3 linked regions of the Homo sapiens genome follow. The gene in region 1 interacts genetically with each later gene. Each region holds a gene or a part of one and is shown on either strand. Other genes may lie near its edges. The genes, in order: RB1, RIN1 and DDX19A.

Evidence for each region.
Region 2: changes in RB1 (region 1) and RIN1 together harm fitness more than expected from each alone (negative genetic interaction), as found in Homo sapiens cells (one large-scale study listed by BioGRID).
Region 3: changes in RB1 (region 1) and DDX19A together harm fitness more than expected from each alone (negative genetic interaction), as found in Homo sapiens cells (one large-scale study listed by BioGRID).

What each region holds. Positions count from the first base shown.
Region 1 is NC_000013.11:48,310,131-48,313,780, reverse strand, and holds part of RB1 (retinoblastoma-associated protein), read right to left. Parts: intron 1-3,650. UniProt on the Homo sapiens protein: Tumor suppressor that is a key regulator of the G1/S transition of the cell cycle. The hypophosphorylated form binds transcription regulators of the E2F family, preventing transcription of E2F-responsive genes.
Region 2 is NC_000011.10:66,329,685-66,333,434, forward strand, and holds the end of RIN1 (ras and Rab interactor 1), read right to left. Parts: intron 3,726-3,750; coding exon 3,574-3,725; intron 3,069-3,573; coding exon 2,592-3,068; 3' UTR 557-2,591; downstream 1-556. UniProt on the Homo sapiens protein: Ras effector protein, which may serve as an inhibitory modulator of neuronal plasticity in aversive memory formation. Can affect Ras signaling at different levels. First, by competing with RAF1 protein for binding to activated Ras.
Region 3 is NC_000016.10:70,345,287-70,349,036, forward strand, and holds the start of DDX19A (ATP-dependent RNA helicase DDX19A), read left to right. Parts: upstream 1-1,616; 5' UTR 1,617-1,705; coding exon 1,706-1,762; intron 1,763-3,750. UniProt on the Homo sapiens protein: ATP-dependent RNA helicase involved in mRNA export from the nucleus.

The sequences.
Region 1 (3,650 bases):
CGAGACTCCGTCTCAAAAAAAAAAAAAAAAAAAAAGAATAAACATACAGAGCAATGGAATAGAACTGAGACTCCAGAAATAAACCCTGGTTTTTATAGTCAACTGATTTTCATCAAGGGCACCAAAACAATTCAATGAAGAAAGAATAGTCTTTTCCATAAGTGGTGCAGAGACAACTGGATATCCACATTCAAAAGACTGGAGTTAGACCTCTTCCTCACATCATACACAAAAATTAACTCAAAAAAAAAAAACAAAAAAAAACCCAAGACTGACAAGAACTAAAAACCATATGACTTTTAGAAGAAAGCACAGAATAAGTCTTCATGACCTTGGGTTAGTCAAGGCCTTCTTAGATACAACATCAAAAGCCCAAGCAACCAAAAAAAAAACCACCACCAAAAAAAAAATAGAAAACTGGACTTCATCAAAATTAAAATCCTACGCTGCAAATGACATCATCAAGAAAGTGAAAAGGCAACTCACAGAATGGGGGGAAAAGTCTGCAAATAATATATCTTATAAGAGATATGCATAAAGGAGAAGCTTTAACTGCATCTTAAAAACAGAATTTAGGCTAAAAGAAAAAAGAAGGGTATTCCAAAAAAAGGGGAGATCGCATGAATATGAATACTATCATATTCATATGGAAGATATTCATATGGAAGATTCATATGGAAGGGAAGAGAACACAGGCATTGGGGGCCAACAATGGAAATAAAAAATAAGACTGGAAGGAAGGTTAAAGCACAGACCATGAAGAACTACAAATACTGAGAAAGTTTGGACTTTACTTCTTCATAATGGTGGTGGGAGCATGGGAGGGTGTTACAATGGAGGCTACTGAGAGTGGGTTGTAACAATGAAAAATAAATTTTAAAGCAAAAGGGGCAAACTGTACACCAGTCTTTTCTAAAAATCAGGCACAGGATGGATTGGATGGAGAAAAGAAGAGACTAGTCAGAAAGAGGCACTAAAACATGCATAAAAAATGCTCAAGTCAATGACATAAGCTTCCACCTTCTGAAATTAAAAAAATAAAAAGGAAATTAAAACCAAAGCAAACAGTAAAAACCAAGCACTGCTGGTAAAAGAAATGAAGGGACAGACGTGAGAGGCAATGCAAAAAGATAACTTGAGACTGAACGGATAGGTTTAAAATAGAAGGAGTCTGGTATAGTTTTAATTAGTCCTATGGACAGACACTGAATACCAAGGTAAACCTGTAAAGAAAGCAAATGGTAGTGTAAAATTCCACTTCTTCCTAGAATGCAGAAAGCTGCAAAGAGTATTGCTCCCACCCTCACAACAAGAACAAGCCAGATAAGGAACAAAAACAACCTTTCTTGAAATCAACATATCCTTTCCTTATATTTCAGATTATTTAATTTCCCCTAAAAAAAGGAACCTCCAATGAGAGAAAAGATATAAATAATGGCTCATCTGTGGCACAACATGAAAGGAAGAGACACAGGGAACCCTAACAAAAGTAAAAAGTATTCAGCTAAAAATTTTTAATGAATGCTGATTACAAAACAACAAAAATCCATTTAAATATAAAAAAGAAATAGGTTAAAATCAAAATGAAGGTAAACGATACACATTGTAAAGAGTGATCACAAGAAAAGTGGAATCGATATGTGGACACTGCAGAACAAAAGATATAAATTTGGATAAAAAAGCACATTACATAATGATAAAGGTACCAATTTACCTAAAAGGCATAAAAATTCTAAACTTGTATGTACCCAAGGATAAAGCTTTAAAATACACTAATAAAGGCCAGGCACAGTGGCTCACGCCTGTAATGCCAGCACTTTGGGAGGCCGAGGGCAGATCATGAGGTCAGGAGTTCGAGACCAGCCTGACTAACACGGTGAAACCCCGTCTCTACTAAAAATACAAAAATTAGCCGGGTGTGGTGGCGCATGCCTATAATCCCAGCTACTCGGGAGGCTGAGACAGGAGAATCGCTTGGACCCGGGAGGCAGAGGTTGCAGTGAGCCGAGATCGTGCCACGCACTCCAGCCTGGGTGACAGAGCAAGACTCCATCTCAAAATAAAATAAAATAAAAAATACATTAATAAAAAACAGAATTTAAAAGGACCATTCTAATTATAGTTGGAGGCTTCATATTTCTCCCTCAATAATTAGTAAAACACATAGAAAGAAAATCAGTAAGGATATGGATGATCTACTGTACCTTTTCTATGTATAGATATACAAATACTTACCATTGTGTTACAATTGCCTACAATGTTCAGTACAGTAACATGCTGTACACATTTGCAGACTAGGAGCAACATGCTATATACCACACAGCATAGGTGTGTCATAGGCTATACCATCCAGGTTTGTGTAAGTACATGCTATGATGTTCACACAACGATGAAATCACCTAATGATGCATTTCTCAGATGTGTTCCCATTGTTAAGCAACACATGACTGTATTTATTTAAAATATAACCACCATATCACAAAAATAAGTAAGTGGTTCTATCAAGAGCAATATATCCCAAAGCTCTTTGAGATATGTATATCATACATTTCATATACATATATATGTATGTATAACAAAAAGCCTATGAGGTTCACATTCAGGCATTATTTCTGCCTTACAGGTGAGCAAACTGAGACTCACAGAATTAACCAATTTGCCTAAAATCATATAGCTACAATATAATTACAACCAAAGTTTCCTGCCTTGAGGTCCAAGGCATTTTCCATTCTACCATACTACCAATCAAGATGCAGAAAGTAAACCAAAATTCTAACAGCTGATTCACCTTAAGTCACAATATGAACATCACCTTAGCCAATTTCTTAATGGAAAGTCCTATTCATATGCTATAATCAGCATAAATACAATCTAACCTTATGAACAAAGCTAATCTTTATTATTACACTTTACTAAATATTTATTTTAAAAAAAGAAAACACTTTTCTAGACAAAATACCACAAACTTTTCCTTTAAAGGGATTAATATATGCTTTCATGTATGCATAAACAACTTTTCTGATGCTAAAGTACTTAAAAATAAGAATTTTAACAAACATTACTACATCAAAATCACTACAATGCATTTAAAATTGTAACCATTTTAACTGATATCCTAAGTTCTCCTAAAAAAAAATACATCAATGATAAAATTTTCTGGGGTATTTCTTAAGTAAAATTATTCTGTTTGCAAGACCTAATATACATACTCATTGACTCTAATAAGAGCTTTATATGCATTAATTTATTTAATCTGCACATAACTCCAAGATCCAGAAATTACTGTCAGTCCCTTTTACAGGTAAGAAAACTAAGGCTTGAAAATTGTAGATAACATGTTCAAGATAATGGAGTTCGGACATGGTATATCTGTTTGACTCTTAATCCTTGCTCTTAACCCATCCTCTATCCCAATAAACATCACCTACTTTCTATTGTTAAAAAGGGTTTCCTTTTTGACAATATTCCTCCTCTTGTTTCAAAGAAGAGAGACAACTGCCACTAGAATAGCTGCACTGGAAACACATTTATTCTGTCATTACATTTGCTTCTTAGAACACACTGTATCACATTCTCCCTTAGATATTATTATATAAATGAAGGTTAAATTCTCAGGCCAAACCTCAAAAACGTAACTCTAACTTAAAATC
Region 2 (3,750 bases), on another chromosome or scaffold:
GGGTCACTGCAACCTCTGCCTCCCGGGTTCAAGTGATTCTCTTGCCTCAGCCTCCCCAGTAGCTGGGACTACAGGTGTGTGCCACGACGCCTGGCTAATTTTTGTATTTTTAGTAGAGACGGGGTTTCACCATGCTGGCCAGGCTGGTCTTGAACTCCTGACCTCAGGTGATCCACCGGCCTCGGCCTCCCAAAGTGTTGGGATTACAGGCGTGAGCCACCAGGCCCAGCCCAGAGTTTCTTGAGAAGAAAAACCACAAGACCCAGGCAGCAGCTCCCTGTGGTGCCCCATCACTGGGGAGGGCAGGGAGGGGGTCAGGTCATGCTGAGCCTGGCAAGGGTGGGAAGGGCTTGTAGAGGCCCCAGAGCCTCATTCCCATGAGGCCAGTTGTACATCCGGCCCCTGGGATCCTCCGAGCACCCTCTACAAACATTCCAGGTCCTTCCTCTGGGACTGAGCTTGACACATCCCGTGTTTGATTCCCAGAACCGAGTCCTCCCTTATACTCCCCAGGTTTCTGCCTCACTGTCCCTCACTCCTGGTTATCAAACTCCAATCAGTGAACAACATTTATTGAACACCTATGGCATTTGTGCTCAGCATTGGACTGTGTGAGGCACTAGGGGTGAGTGGTGAAACAGGGAGGGGAATAGAAGAGCCAACGGGACACTTCCTATCAGCGAGAACCTTGGGAGGGCGTGGAAGTGGGGAGGGAAGAGCTGCTGGTGGCCTAGTGACAAAAAAAATGGGAGCCGTGCAACTGGGCTGTATCTGGACTGCTCATCTGAAAGTCAATGTCTGGCTGGGTGTGGTAGCTCACGCCTGTAATCCCAGTACTTTGGGAGGCCAAGGCGGGCGGATCACCTGAGGTCGGGAGTTTGAGACCAGCCTGGCCAACATGGGGAAACCCCGTCTCTACTAGTAACACAAAAATTAGCCAGGTGTGGTGGTGCACACCTGTAGTCCCAGCTACTCGGGAGGCTGAGGCAGGAGAATCACTTGAACTGGGAGGCGAAGGTTGCTGTGAGCCGAGATGGCACCACTGCACTTTAGCCAGAGCGACAGAGCAAAACTCCATCTCAAACAAACAAACAAACAAAAAAACCCAAAAAGCCAATGTCCACGATTTCTACCTCCCAGTTGTCATGTCTGACATTTGGGCTGACGTCCCCTCTGTGCTCAGTGCCCGAGGAGAGAGCCTCTGGGGTCATCCTCCATAAGGGGACAATTCCTTCCTTCCTGGGGATGGCCCCCAAGAGGCTGGCCTTACCCAGACCCCAGAATCTAAGGGACCTGGGGGCCAGTGGCCTTGGCCCCTGCGCTGTCCCCAGGTTGCCTGATGCTGCTGGACTGCAAGGCCCGGGACCCCCTCTGCTGCTGCAGCCTTGGAGGCGCCCTCACCCCTGGGTGGTCACCCTCTCGGCAGATTCCCGGGCCGTGCACACCCCCTCGTGGTTGGTGGTCGGCACTTTTCCTTGTTTGGATTTGCTGCCTGCTCTGGGCTTCCTTGGGGGCTGCCCCGGCCTTTGTGGGTGGCTTAGAATGGAGGGTGGAGTTGGAACCTGATGCCCTGGTTTGGGCGGGGGAACCCTTAAGGACTTGCTATATGACATCCTGGGAGTCACTTTCCTGACCCTCAGTGGGCCCAACAAGTCATGGCCAAGTAAAGCTTTTGTGAGGGCCAAGAGTTTAGTGCAGAGAGCATGGTTTCTGAGCCCCCTCTCCATTCTGGAAGCTTATCTGCCAGCTGGTGGATCTCCCCAGAGATGCTGGAGGGCCTGGGAGGACTCCAAATCTTGGGGAGAGACTGTAACTTGGGTACTTTCTCCCCAGGGCCTGATTTCCAGGGGAATAACCTCCCTGAACTGGGCATCAGCAGGTGGGAGCCCTGTCTGGCAGAGAGCGGACTCCGGGAGAGAGTTAGCAGCCCAGCTCTCTCCCTCCCTTTCTGCCATGAGCTCTGCTTGTAGCAAAATCACCCATTTTGATCACTGGGACACTTCTGGGAGCCGAGCAGGGCAGCAATAGTGTCCCCACTTTACAGATGAGAGTACTGAGGCTTGCAGGTGCAGGTCCTTCTGGTGTCCAGGACAGGGGTGGGCCCCAAGCCTTTGCTGCTGTTCTGTGGCCTCTCTAAATCCTCCTGACACCTAAGAGCCATTGGAACCTTTTAGGGTCTGGAAGTCCCAGCCTGGTGGGAGATACTTGGGTGGAGCCCTGCCTCAGCCATGCCCATGAGGGGAAGGGTAAAAGGAGCTGAGACCGTCACCCTCCCCACGTCAGAGGTTGGGCATCTGTCGGATTCGCCCCCACTTGGCACACCCTCATTGCAGGCTGGCTCACCCTCAGCTGGGGGAGAAGAACAAGAGGCAAGGGGCCTTGGGCACACAGTCTGGGGGCCCCCGAAGCCCCCTCATCTTTATTCCAGTTCCTCAGATGTGGCAGTTCCCCCAGCTTCCCTGGAAACAAGTATCAGACAAAGGTGGTGGCAGACACAGGACAGGGCCCTGGGTGGGGCTTGCTGGCGCTAAAAGGATTTCTCAGCAGGCTCAGGGTCTCCCGCCCCGAATGACCCTTCTGGCCACTTCAAGCTACTCCTCTGCTGCCCGGCTTCCCTCTGCCTCTGGTTCCCCTGGCTGAGCAGGGCCTTCCTGGGCTTGACCCTGGCCCCCTTCAGCAGTTGTCTCAGACTGTTCCCGAATGTCCCTGGGGCTGGCTTTGACCCCAGCATCCCCATCTCCCTGGCACCCTTGCTCCTCCCCTCTGCTTCTTGCCTCTGACTGCCCACTGCCCTCCTCCTCTGTCACAGCCCCCTGGGTCTCAGGCCACTCCGCCCGGCGGTAGACGAGGTAGCCAGTGGTGGGCAGCCTGTGGGCCAGGGCCCCAGGGGGCAGGCGGTGGTAGCCCTGCTCCTTGTACAGGAAGAGGCCAAAAGTGTTGGGCTGGGTCACTCGGAACTTGGTGGCACAGAGCTGGTTCAGGGTGGCAATCGAGGCTTCTGGGGGCACGGCCAGGGTCTTGGAGGTGCAGCCACTGCTGGGATCCTGATAGGCTACTCGGAGGAGGTGCTATGCAGGAGGAGAAGCAAAAACAAGTACTCAGCCCCGGCTGGCATGCATCTGGCTCCAAAGCTGAGACATCAGCTTTCTGGGCTGTGCAGGGACAGGGTGGGTAGGTGGAGATCCAGTGGGAGAACCAAGCGGCAAAAGCTCTATGTGCTCCAGGGGTCGGCTTGTGGGCCACAGCCGCAGGTGCAAGGACAGCCCAGTGGGGCGCTCACAAGCCTGAGATGAAGATTTGATAGTGAGTAATTTGTGCCCCAAGCACTCTCCTGCATTAACTCATTTAATCTTCACCTCAACCCCAGGAGGTAGGTCCTATTACCCCATTTTACTGATGAGAAAACTGAGGCACGAAGTAGTTAAGTAACTCGCCCAAGTCCCCACAACCCAGTGGCAGAGCCAGGATTAGAACCCAGGATCTGTCTACAGAGTCTGGACTCTTCACCAAGGACAGGAAGGTGAAAGGCGGGGATGGCGTCTGGCTCTGAGGACACGGTGGAGGGCCTGTTACCTGGAAGCAGTGGGTGGCAGGCAGGCGGCGCTGCTCCCAGAGGCTGAGGGAGCGCCGTAGCTCCTGCACGGGGCTCAGTGGGAGGGTGTGGGCCTGACCCAGGCCACTCAGCAGGGCCAGGCTGGCAGAGAGGCTGGTCAGGTAGTAGCCACCTGGGACACAGGGTGGAAGAACACG
Region 3 (3,750 bases), on another chromosome or scaffold:
GGAACTGCTTATAAAAAAGAAAAAGCAGGTCAGCACTGTGGCTCACACCTGTAATCCCAGCACTTTGGGCGGCCCAGGCAGGCAGATCCTTGAGCTCAGGAGTTCAAGGCCAGCCTAGCCAACGTGGTGAAACTCCATCTCTACTAAAAATACAAACATTATCTGGGCGTGGTGGCGTGTGCCTGTAATCCCAGCTACTTGGGAGGCTGAGGCAGGAGAACCGCTTGAATCCAGGAAGCAGAGGTTGCAGTGAGCCAAGACCCGGCCACTGCACTCCAGCCTGGGTGATATCTGTAAATAATGGTTCCATGAGTTTAGAAATACAAAGTAGCATGACTTAACAAATTTACACATCTATGTAACCAGGTCCCAATCAAGATACAGAATAATTCTATCACCCAGGAAGTTCTCTTGTGTCTGGACCAAACATCCTTCTCCACAGGTAAGCTCTGTTAGTTTTTATCAGCATAGATTTTATTTGTCCTATTCTTGAATCTCATATAAATAGATTATACATTATGTATTTGGTGGTCCTTCAACATAATGGCCAGGTGTGGTGGCTCATGCCTGTAATCCCAACACTTTGAGAGGCCAAGGCAGGAGGATCTCTGGAGTTAGCAGGAGATCAAAAGCAGCCTGAGCAATATAATGAAGACTTCCGTCTCTGCAAAAAGTTTAAAAACTAGCCAGGAGTGGTGGTGCGGGCCTGTGGGCCCAGCTACCTGGGAGGCTGAGGTGGGAGGTCAAGGGTGCAGTGAGCCGAGATCACACCACTGCATTCCAGCCTGGGCGACACAATGAGACCCTGACTCAAAAAAGAAACGAAAAAACGCATTGTGTGTTGTGTTTATTGGATGGTGGAATTATGGGGTTTACGGGTCTTCTGTTGCGTTTTGGTTTTTGTTTTCTTACCTGTTATCGCGTTCCTAACAGTAGAAATTGGCATCATATAGTATTCTCATGGAACTTTCCTTTGTTCAAAGCCCTACAGTTCAGAGACTTACACATTTAATGTGAGATATGACAGGCTTAAAAAGAAACGTTGGGGGCCGGGCGCGGTGGCTCACGCCTGTAATCCCAACACTTTGGGAGGCTGAGGCGGGAGGATCACAAGGTCAGCAGTTCGAGATCAGCCTGGCCAACATGGTGAAACCCCATCTCTACTAAAAATACAAAAATTAGCCGGGCGTGGTGGCGGGCACCTGTAATCCCAGCTACTCGGGAGGCTGAGGTAGAATAGCTTGAACACGGAGGCGGAGGTTGCAGTGAGTCGAGATCCCGCCACGGCACTCCAGCCTGGGACAGAGCGAGACTCCGTCTCGAAAAAAAATAATAAAATAAATAATAAAATAAATAAAATAAAATAAACGTTGGCTTATTTCAGTGTGAAGTAAGGCAATAAACGGAGGGCTAACAGTTCCACTTCGTAGAGCTCAGACATTTTAAGAAGCGAGGAGGCCGCGTCCTGGAAGGGTGAGCAAAAAGCGCGAGGTTTGCGCACGAAGGGAAAGGCGAGGCCCGAGGAGAGACCTGGCGCCGCGCAGAATGATGATGTCGCACGCTGGGTGGGAACTGACGTCACCTGTGCTCACCGCCGCTTCCGGTCCGCGTGAGGTGCATTCTCGCGCCGGTGGCGAGGTTAGGGCCCGCGTTGCGACGTGGTGCAGCGCATATTTTCACAAGTGGGTCTCCCTTGTCCGGGACTATGGCCACCGACTCGTGGGCCCTGGCGGTGGACGAGCAGGAAGCGGCTGTCAAGTCGGTCAGTAGCTCAGCTCCTGGCGAGGAGGACGTAGCAGGGGCCCAAGCGAAACCTCCCAAAAGCACAGGGAGCTCCCCGGGTTGGGGAGGCCCCTGGGCAACGCGCTCCTGCAGTTTGCTAGGGCAGTCACTTGCCCTTGATTTGCTCTTAGAGCTAAAGAGACCAATGTCGAGCTTTTTATCTCCATCTGGGCTGGTTAAGGACTTCATCCTTTGGTAAATCCGCCCCACTATGCATGCTGTCATTCCTCTATTGACCTCCTCGGTGACGATTATAAGGAAAGCCAAGTTTAGATTCTGATTCTCTTTTTCATTACGCGACTGTTCTTCGCATGTTTCTGTACTACTCTGTATTTAACATTTCTTAGATCCATGCTTAACGTGGTTGGTAGTTTGTAGCTCTTTGCAGAATAACAGATTGACTTTTGGATTTAATACCTCAATCTACTGCAGATGTTGGAAGGAGGCACTACAAATTGTTTCATTGATGTGTAAAGTAACGGTTTCATGTACTTGTTCTTTCAGTAATGAATATTCATTCAACTGGAATGTAATTACAGCATACACTGTGGCTTTCTGTTCTTATATCTAAGACCTAAACTTTAGGTTTGTTTAGTGATAATGGACTGTCTTTTTTTTTGTTGTAGTTGTTTCTCTTTTGAGGCAGAGTTTTGCTCTTGTTGCCCAGGCTGGAGTGCAATGGCGCCATCTCGGCTCACCGCAACCTCCGCCTCCCGGGTTCAAGCGATTCTCCTGCCTCAGTCTCCCGAGTAGCTGGGATTACAGGCATGCGCCACCACGCCCGGCTAATTTTGTATTTTTTGTAGAGACGGGGTTTCTCCATGTTGGTCAGGCTGGTCTCGAACTCCCGACCTCAAGTGATCCGCCCACCTCGGCCTCCCAAAGTGCTGGGATTACAGCCGTGAGTCACCGCGCCCAGCCGGTATGGGGATTTTTGAGAGGGCTATTGACAGAATTAGACAAGGCTGGCAAGGATTTATTGAACTACAGAGAACAGAATATGTTAGAAGTGATGGCTAATAGAAATATCAGTGTAGAAGTTATTCTGATAGCCCCGAGATAGAGGGCCTATGTTGGGCAGTGGAAGTGAAAATTAAGGGATGGGTATAAGATATGAAGGTAGAATGGGTAGGACTTGCTAACATAATAAAGGAGAGAAGGGAGATAAAGCCAAAGGTTTCTGTTTTCAACCTGGATCCTATTGGTACTACTAACGTCCCAATAACAGGAATAGGAAAGTGGGAGGAAGGGCAGATTTGATAGAATGGTGAAGGCAGCCGGGCATGATGGCACCCACCTGTGATCCCAGCACTTTGGGAGGCCGAGGCGGGCAGATCACTCGAGGTCAAGAGTTTGATACCAGCCTGGCCAACATAGTGAAACCCTGTCTCTACTAAAAATACAAAAGTTAGCCAGGCGTGGTAGTCGTCCCCTGTTAATACCAGCTACTCAGGAGGCTGAGGCATGAGAATTGCTTGAACCTGGGAGGTGGAGGTTGCAGTGAGCCAAAATTACGCCACTGCACTCCAGCCTGGGCTACTGAGTGAGACTCTGTCTCAAAAAAAAAAAAAAAAAAAAAAAGAGGTGAAGGCTGGGCACAGTGGCTCACACCTGTAATCCTAGCACTTTGGGAAACTGAGACAGGCAGATCAGTTGAACCCAGGAGTTCAAGACCAGTGTGGGCAACATGGCGAAACCCCATTTCTACAAAAATACAAAAAAAATTAGCTGGGCGGGGTGGTGGTACACTCCTGTAGTCCCAGTTACTCAGGATGCTGAGGTGGGAGGATCACCTGAGCCTAGGGAGGTTGAGGCTGCAGTGAGCTGTGATCACACCACTGCACTCCAGCATGGGTGACGGTGAGACCCTGTTTCAAAAAAAGAAAAAAGGGAATGGTGAGTTCAGGTTTGGCTGTTCTGAATTTAAAATAAGGAAACATCTTGGTAAGTACCTGTTGTGGGAGTCCC